Linked DNA regions of Homo sapiens: region 1 is reported to be linked to region 2. The links are microRNA targets in miRTarBase. Many come from high-throughput screens and were not tested one by one. Region 2 holds a microRNA gene; the other region holds the end of a gene's coding sequence.

Evidence for each region. The annotated mature microRNA hsa-miR-4477a reads CUAUUAAGGACAUUUGUGAUUC and lies in region 2 at 2,524-2,545, shown strand. An mRNA with a match to its seed (bases 2 to 7 or 8) in the 3' UTR can be bound and repressed. Matches are read on the target gene's strand: a 7mer-m8 pairs with bases 2 to 8, a 7mer-A1 pairs with bases 2 to 7 and ends in A, and an 8mer does both.
Region 1: the mRNA of JRKL is a reported target of hsa-miR-4477a. Seed matches in the 3' UTR shown: 7mer-A1 at 1,641-1,647.

The regions. Positions count from the first base shown.
Region 1 is chr11:96,391,477-96,394,895 of GRCh38, forward strand. JRKL (JRK like) reads left to right here. Exons shown (of 2, transcript NM_001261833.2): 2 at 1-2,085. The coding sequence ends at 748. Among named protein-coding and RNA genes, the nearest start is that of JRKL, 3.2 kb to the left of the region's middle.
Region 2 is chr9:41,231,279-41,234,697 of GRCh38, forward strand. It overlaps MIR4477A (microRNA 4477a), which reads left to right and starts at 2,477; the gene lies at 2,477-2,557.

The sequences.
Region 1 (3,419 bases), not on the chromosome of region 2:
GTATTTAAGATCTAAAGGCTTGCAGGAAAAGGCTGTGCTCTTGTTGGATAATTCACCAACACATCCAAATGAAAATGTCCTAAGGTCAGATGATGGCCAAATATTTGCTAAATATTTACCACCTAATGTGGCCTCATTGATTCAGCCTTCAGATCAGGGAGTCATAGCAACGATGAAGAGAAATTATCGTGCAGGTCTTCTCCAGAACAACTTGGAAGAAGGTAATGACCTGAAATCATTCTGGAAGAAGCTAACTCTGTTGGATGCACTTTATGAAATAGCAATGGCATGGAACTTAGTAAAACCAGTTACCATTAGCAGAGCATGGAAGAAGATTCTCCCTATGGTAGAGGAGAAAGAGAGCCTGGACTTTGATGTTGAAGATATTTCTGTGGCTACTGTGGCTGCCATTTTACAACACACCAAAGGATTGGAAAATGTGACTACTGAGAACCTTGAAAAATGGCTTGAAGTAGACAGTACTGAACCAGGCTATGAAGTGTTAACTGATAGCGAAATCATCAGAAGAGCACAAGGCCAGGCAGATGAATCCAGTGAAAATGAGGAGGAGGAAATAGAACTAATTCCAGAGAAACATATTAATCATGCAGCTGCCCTCCAGTGGACTGAAAATTTATTGGATTATCTAGAACAACAAGGTGATATGATTCTACCTGATAGACTGGTAATACGTAAACTTCGAGCCACCATCAGAAATAAACAGAAGATGACAAAGTCAAGTCAATAATGTCATTTCAATTTTATTGTTCTGCTCATTGTGTTTGTGACAAACTCTTTGCAATATGGCTTAATTTTCTTTGTGTTCTGAATTCTCAGACTTGGTCCTGTGAAATACAGGCACAAAATGTATCTGAAGTGGTTTGAGGATTATGTGTTTTCATCATCTGTGTCTTTTGTCCTTTTATTTGTACAGATAATCAGAAGATGATACTGAATAGATATAAATTACATGTACACATGTATTCACTTTTTAGAATCTGCAATTATACCTTCTGTAACAGTGGCATTCCCTTAATTTTCTAGTGAAAGTTAGAGATAACTGAACAGACTGAAGCACTTTTCTGAAATCTTTTGCTTGATTTATGAAGGCTGCCATAGTTATCTTTTCTTGTGTTAACCATCTTAAATGATGTTTTGTATATTTTAATAGACTGATAGGATGAGAAAGATTTATATTATTAGATTTCAGGATGATTTATAATAATTCAAAAATGAAATTCAATAATGGGGAAATAATTATGAATTATAGAAATTATGCCTTCATTCTCTTACATTTGTGTGGGTTGCAAGAGGGGGAGATTATTCTGGAAATGAAGTAAATATGGGAAGTTATTGCCAAATGAGAGAGAAACTATGGGAAAGCTGATCTATAAAGAGGCATTCTGATCAATTCATTTGTAGGAAACTGGGAAATAAAAACCTGGGGAACTTTAGGTTATTTATACAAAGGGAATAAATAGGCTGATTTTAATTTGGTAAGTTGATCTTTTTATTATGAATTTGGTAATAGTATAGGTTTATTATTTATTCATCTAATTTTATAGTACAGGTTTTGTAATGTTACATGTGATGATATGAGCTCCCACCTTATATGGGGGAACATCTTGGGAATTTGAGATTTAATAAGTTTTTTTTTTTTTTTTTTTAGTGTTTTTACTGCATACTCACAAATGTTGTCTATAATTTGAAAAATATTGTCATATCTGGCCCTTTGATGAGAAAAGGAAATTACAATAATAAAGTTTTATGATTTTAAATAAGTCATATGTTTGTATCCTGTTTTATGAAGAAAGCAGAAATAATTACTGAAAGTGCCAGACACTAAGGAATATTATTGTTTATTATTTTAATACATATAAAAAGGGATTAATCTGCTAAAATGTAATCTAAATCAGAATTTTGATAAATTTTTTTTGTAAACTAAGTATGTTTATTCAAGACATTGAAACTACTTTGCACATATGAATATTAATGTAACTTGTAATTTAAAAGTAAAGTGTTTCCATGCTATTTCATGTTTTGGCCAAAAATTTTTAAAAAATAAATTACAATTGTTCTCTATTAGTCATTTTTTAAAGGTTTAACTTTTTTTGTTGAAATACGTAACATTTTATAGTGCTTTCTGTAGAATACTAAAACTTCAAAAGTATTTTTAGTTTTCCATAATTTCTCTTATTTTCATGATAGGTGTATGTCTATATTTTTCAGAAGATGTGTGATGAAAGTGTTTAAAAATAGTGTTTATTGCATGAATTTCCTCAGTGTAGAGTGTGAAAAACCATCAGAAGTTAACATACATATTGAATCAGATAATGACACGTTCTGCTATAAAGTAAGCTGTACATAAAATAATTTTTCTAAAATGAAAATATGTACTACAGATCTTGGAATTTCTGTCTGGATTTGCACAGTTTTTAAAATTAATCATGTCAGCCCAATGCAGCTGTGTCATTGCCACCTAGTGGTAAAACTAACATTACTGTTAAGCTGTGTGATTTTAAACTTGAATCCCCAGTAAAAGGTTCACTGTTCTGTGGCCATAAGTGTGAATCTTGTGACTCTTTCTCTAGCCTGTAAGAGACTGCTCTTCTTTGGTTTACAGCTATTCTCTGAAATCTGCCAACACTGGTACTCTAGCCCTGTTTTGGATCCTTCTATCCTTAATTATAAAGGCTGATCAGTAGTTGTAGCAGTTGAAGCCAAAAGCTATTTGGGTTCTGTATCTGCCCCCAAAGTTGTATATCCTTAGCTCCTAATTCCTATTCTATCAGTGCCTTACCAGAGGCTGTGTTTGGCATTCTATTTATCTATTTAAAAATTTGCCATTGGCTTATGTTCTCTCACCAGTTTCATGAATTTTTTTCTCATTGATATGCCTTGACACAATACTCTCAGAAAGCCAATAACAGTGCAATGTTTCTTACACTTCCAGTAGTCAAGAATTTTGTGAGAGCAGATATACCTAATACAAGATCATGTAGGAAATTATAATGTTGCTTTTTTTTCTGAGAGATTTGGGCTTTTTTGTGGCGAGGGGGTTGTAGAAAGTTGAATTCTTTGTCATGATGAAATCCAGTAAATTAAAAATTTATTGAGTTTTACTGTATGTCGAAGACTGCCAGCTGTGGTGGGTTTAGGAAAATATGAAAGAAAGGGAAGAGGTTGCTTTCCTTGAACATCTTGAAATCAAGGTGGAAAAACTATACATGTTTGAAAAAAAAAAAAACCCCAAAACCATCTGCCTCAATTGTAAGCTCATATAAAAGAACCAACATAACAAGATGTGAGCTATGTAAAAAAACCATCAAGATTTAGTTGCTTATTCATTTCTCCTCTGATTTCTATTCTGTATACCCTTTACATTCTAAGCTATGCATTGGTCTTGATTTTTGCTGCTC
Region 2 (3,419 bases):
TATATGGATTTAAAATCACATGTTCTTGTTCGAAAATATTTTTCTTGGAATTTTTATTGGAATTTGAGCATATTTTTAAATGATTTACAGCAAACTAAAGAGTTAATATTATTGAGTCCTGTCATCCAGAATGTGACATGCAAATTCTTCAGACCTCTTTTAATGCCATTTAGTCAGAATTAATATGTTAAATCAATATAAATTAGTATAAATGAGTATAACTAATGATTAAAATAAATTAATGTGTTTGGCTCCATGTTTCTGTCTTCTGCCTTCTATCACTGATGTTTTATTCCTATCCTTGTTGTTTTCTATAGTTTCTTTTATTATGTCTTTTTCTGTCTTGTGATTTGAAAACTATATGACACATTGTAATGTTTTAATTTTTCTAATTTTTTGCTTTTAATTTTAACTAATTTTATTTTTTAGAGAAGTGCAGGTTCACAGCTAAATGGAGCAGAGAGTACAGACTTCTCATATGTCCCTTTCCCCACACACAGCCTCCCCACTACAGCTTCCTGCCTCACAGGAGCACACCTGTGACAACCAGGAACCTACCTTGATCCTTCATTATCATTCAAAGCTTACAGTGCACATTCACGTTTACTCTTCACGCTGTACGTTCTGAGTCTTGACAAAAGTATAATGGCAACAGGATGTTATTCACTGCTAACAGGAGATGAACTATCAAGCCACAAAAAAATACATGGAGGAAACTTAAATGCATATTGCTAAAAGAAGAAGCCAATCCGAAAAGTCTACGTACTGTTTGATTCCAATTATATGACGTTCTGGAAACGGTGAAACTATGGGATCAGTAGAAAGATCAGTGGTTGCCATGGACCAAGGGGAAGGAAGAGATGGATACACAGAGCACAGAGAATCTTCACGGCAGTAAAACCATTCTGTATGATACTATAATGGTAGATATATACATTTGTAAAAATCTATCGTAACTTTTAATCTTTTAAATTACATTTTTTTTTTTGATGGAGTCTTGCTCTGTCGCAAGGCAGGAGTGCACTGGCACGATCTCGGCTTACTGCAACCTCCGCCTCCCGGGTTCAAGTGAGTCTCCTGCCTCGGCCTCCCGAGTAGCTGGGAATACAGGTGCCCGCCACTGCGCCTGGCTAATTTTTGTATTTTTAGTAGAGACTGCGTTCACCATCTTGGCCAGGCTGGTCTTGAACTCCTGACCTTGTGATTCACCTGCCTTGGCCTCCCAAAGTGCTGGGATTACAGGTGTCAGACACCGCACCTGGCCGTTTTTGTTTTAAGAACTGCAGACAAGCTGGGTGCAGTTGCTCAAGCCTGTAATGGCTGCATTTTGGGAGGCTGAAGTGGCTGGATTGCCTGAGCCCCAGAGTTCAAGACCAGGTGGGCAACATAGTGAGATCCCGTCTCTACAAAAAAAGTATTAAAAAAATATAGCCAGGCATAGTGCTGCATGCCTGTAGTCCCAGCTACTCAGGAGGCTGTGGTAGAAAAATCACTTGACCCAGCAGTTTGAGGCTGCAGTGAGCTATGATCATGTCACTGCACTCTGGCCTAGGCGACAGAGCGAAACCCCATCTCAAAACAAAGAACAACCAAAAACCTAGAAGCACACCTCAGAGATAGTGTGGGTTTGGTTCCAGACAACTGCAGTAAAGCAAATGCTACAAACAAAAACCTACAAGCACACCTCAGAGATAGTGTGGGTTTTGTTCCAGACCACTTCAGTAAGGCAAATGTTACAATCAAGTTAGTTGCATAAACATTTTATTTCCCAGTGCTTATAAAAGTTATGCTTAAACTATATTGTAGTCTAATGAGTATTTAATAATTATTAATTAGTAATTAATAGCATGTCTAAAAAACTGTGTACATACCTTAAGTTAAAATACGTCAGTGCTAAAAAATGCTAATGAATATCTGAGCCTTACCAAGTCATAATCTTTTTGCTGGTGAGAGTCTTGCCTCTATATTGATGACTGCTGGCTAATCAGTGTGGGGGCTGCTGAAGGTTGGAAGCCTGTGTCAATTTTTTAAAACAATGAAGTTTGTTCCTTTCACCAAAGATTTCCCTGTAGCATGTGATGCTGTTTGACAGCATTTTATCAACAGTAGAACTTCTTTCAAAATTGGAATAAACCCTCTCAAACCCTGCTGCTGCTTTATCAACTAGGTTTATGGAATATTCTAAATCCTTTGTTGTCATTTCAACAATGTTGATAGCATCTCCACCTGGATTAGATTCCATCTCAAGAAAATATTTTCTTTGCTCGTCCATAAGAAGCAACTCCCTATTTGTTCAAGTTTCATCATGAGTTTACAGCAATTTCATCTCACCTTAAGGCCCTAATTCTAATTCTAGTTGTCTTGTGATTTCTACCACATCTGCAGGGACTTCCTCCACTGACATCCTGAGCCCTCAAAGTCATCCATGAGGGCTGGAATCAACTTCTTCCAAACTCCTGTTAATGTTAATATTTCATCCTCCTCCCATCAATCACAAATGTCCTTAATGGCATTTAAGGATTGCTATTAAGGACATTTGTGATTCACGGGAGGAGGTTCAAATATCATGAAAAGATTAATGGGGAATCCTTTCCAAAAGGTTTTCAATTCAGTTTATCCAGATTCATCAAAGAAATCACTATCTATGACAGCTATACCTTTACAAAATGCAATTATTAATTAATAAAAACACTTGAAAGTCAAAACCACTCCTTGATCCACAGGCTGAAGGTAAATATTGTACTAGCAGCCATGAAAATAACATTAATTTCCAAGTAAATCTCCATCTAAGCTTCTGGGTGGCTAGGTGAATTGTCAATAAGCAGCAATCTTTTTTTCTTTTTTCCTTTTCTTTCCTTTTATTTTTTCTTTTTCTTTCTTTTCTTTTCTTTTCTTTTTTTTTTTTTTGACTTAGTTTTGCTCTTGTTGCCCAGGCTGGAGTACAGTGGTACGGTCTTGGCTCACTGCAACCTCTGCCTCCAGGGTTCAAGCCATTCTTCTACCTCAGCCTCCCAAGTAGCTGAAATTACAGGTACTACCACCATCCCTGGCTAATTTTTTTGTATTTTTATTAGAGATGGGGTTTCATCATTTTGGCCAGGCTGGTCTTGAACTCCTGACCTCAGGTGATCCTCGGCCTCCCAAAGTGCAGGGATTACAAGTATGAGCCACTATGCCTGGCCAACCAACAATCTTTTTAAAAGAATCGTTTTTTTTTTTTTCTGAGCAGTAGGTCTCAATAGTGGGATTAAAATATTCAGTAAACCATGCTATTAACAGATGTGCTGTCACCCAGACAGTGATGTTCCATTTCTAGAGCACAGAAAGAATAGATTTTGCATAATTCTTAAGGGCCCTGAGATTTTCAGAGTGGTCAATGAGCACTGGCTGTAACTTAAAGTCACCAGCTGCAGTGGTCC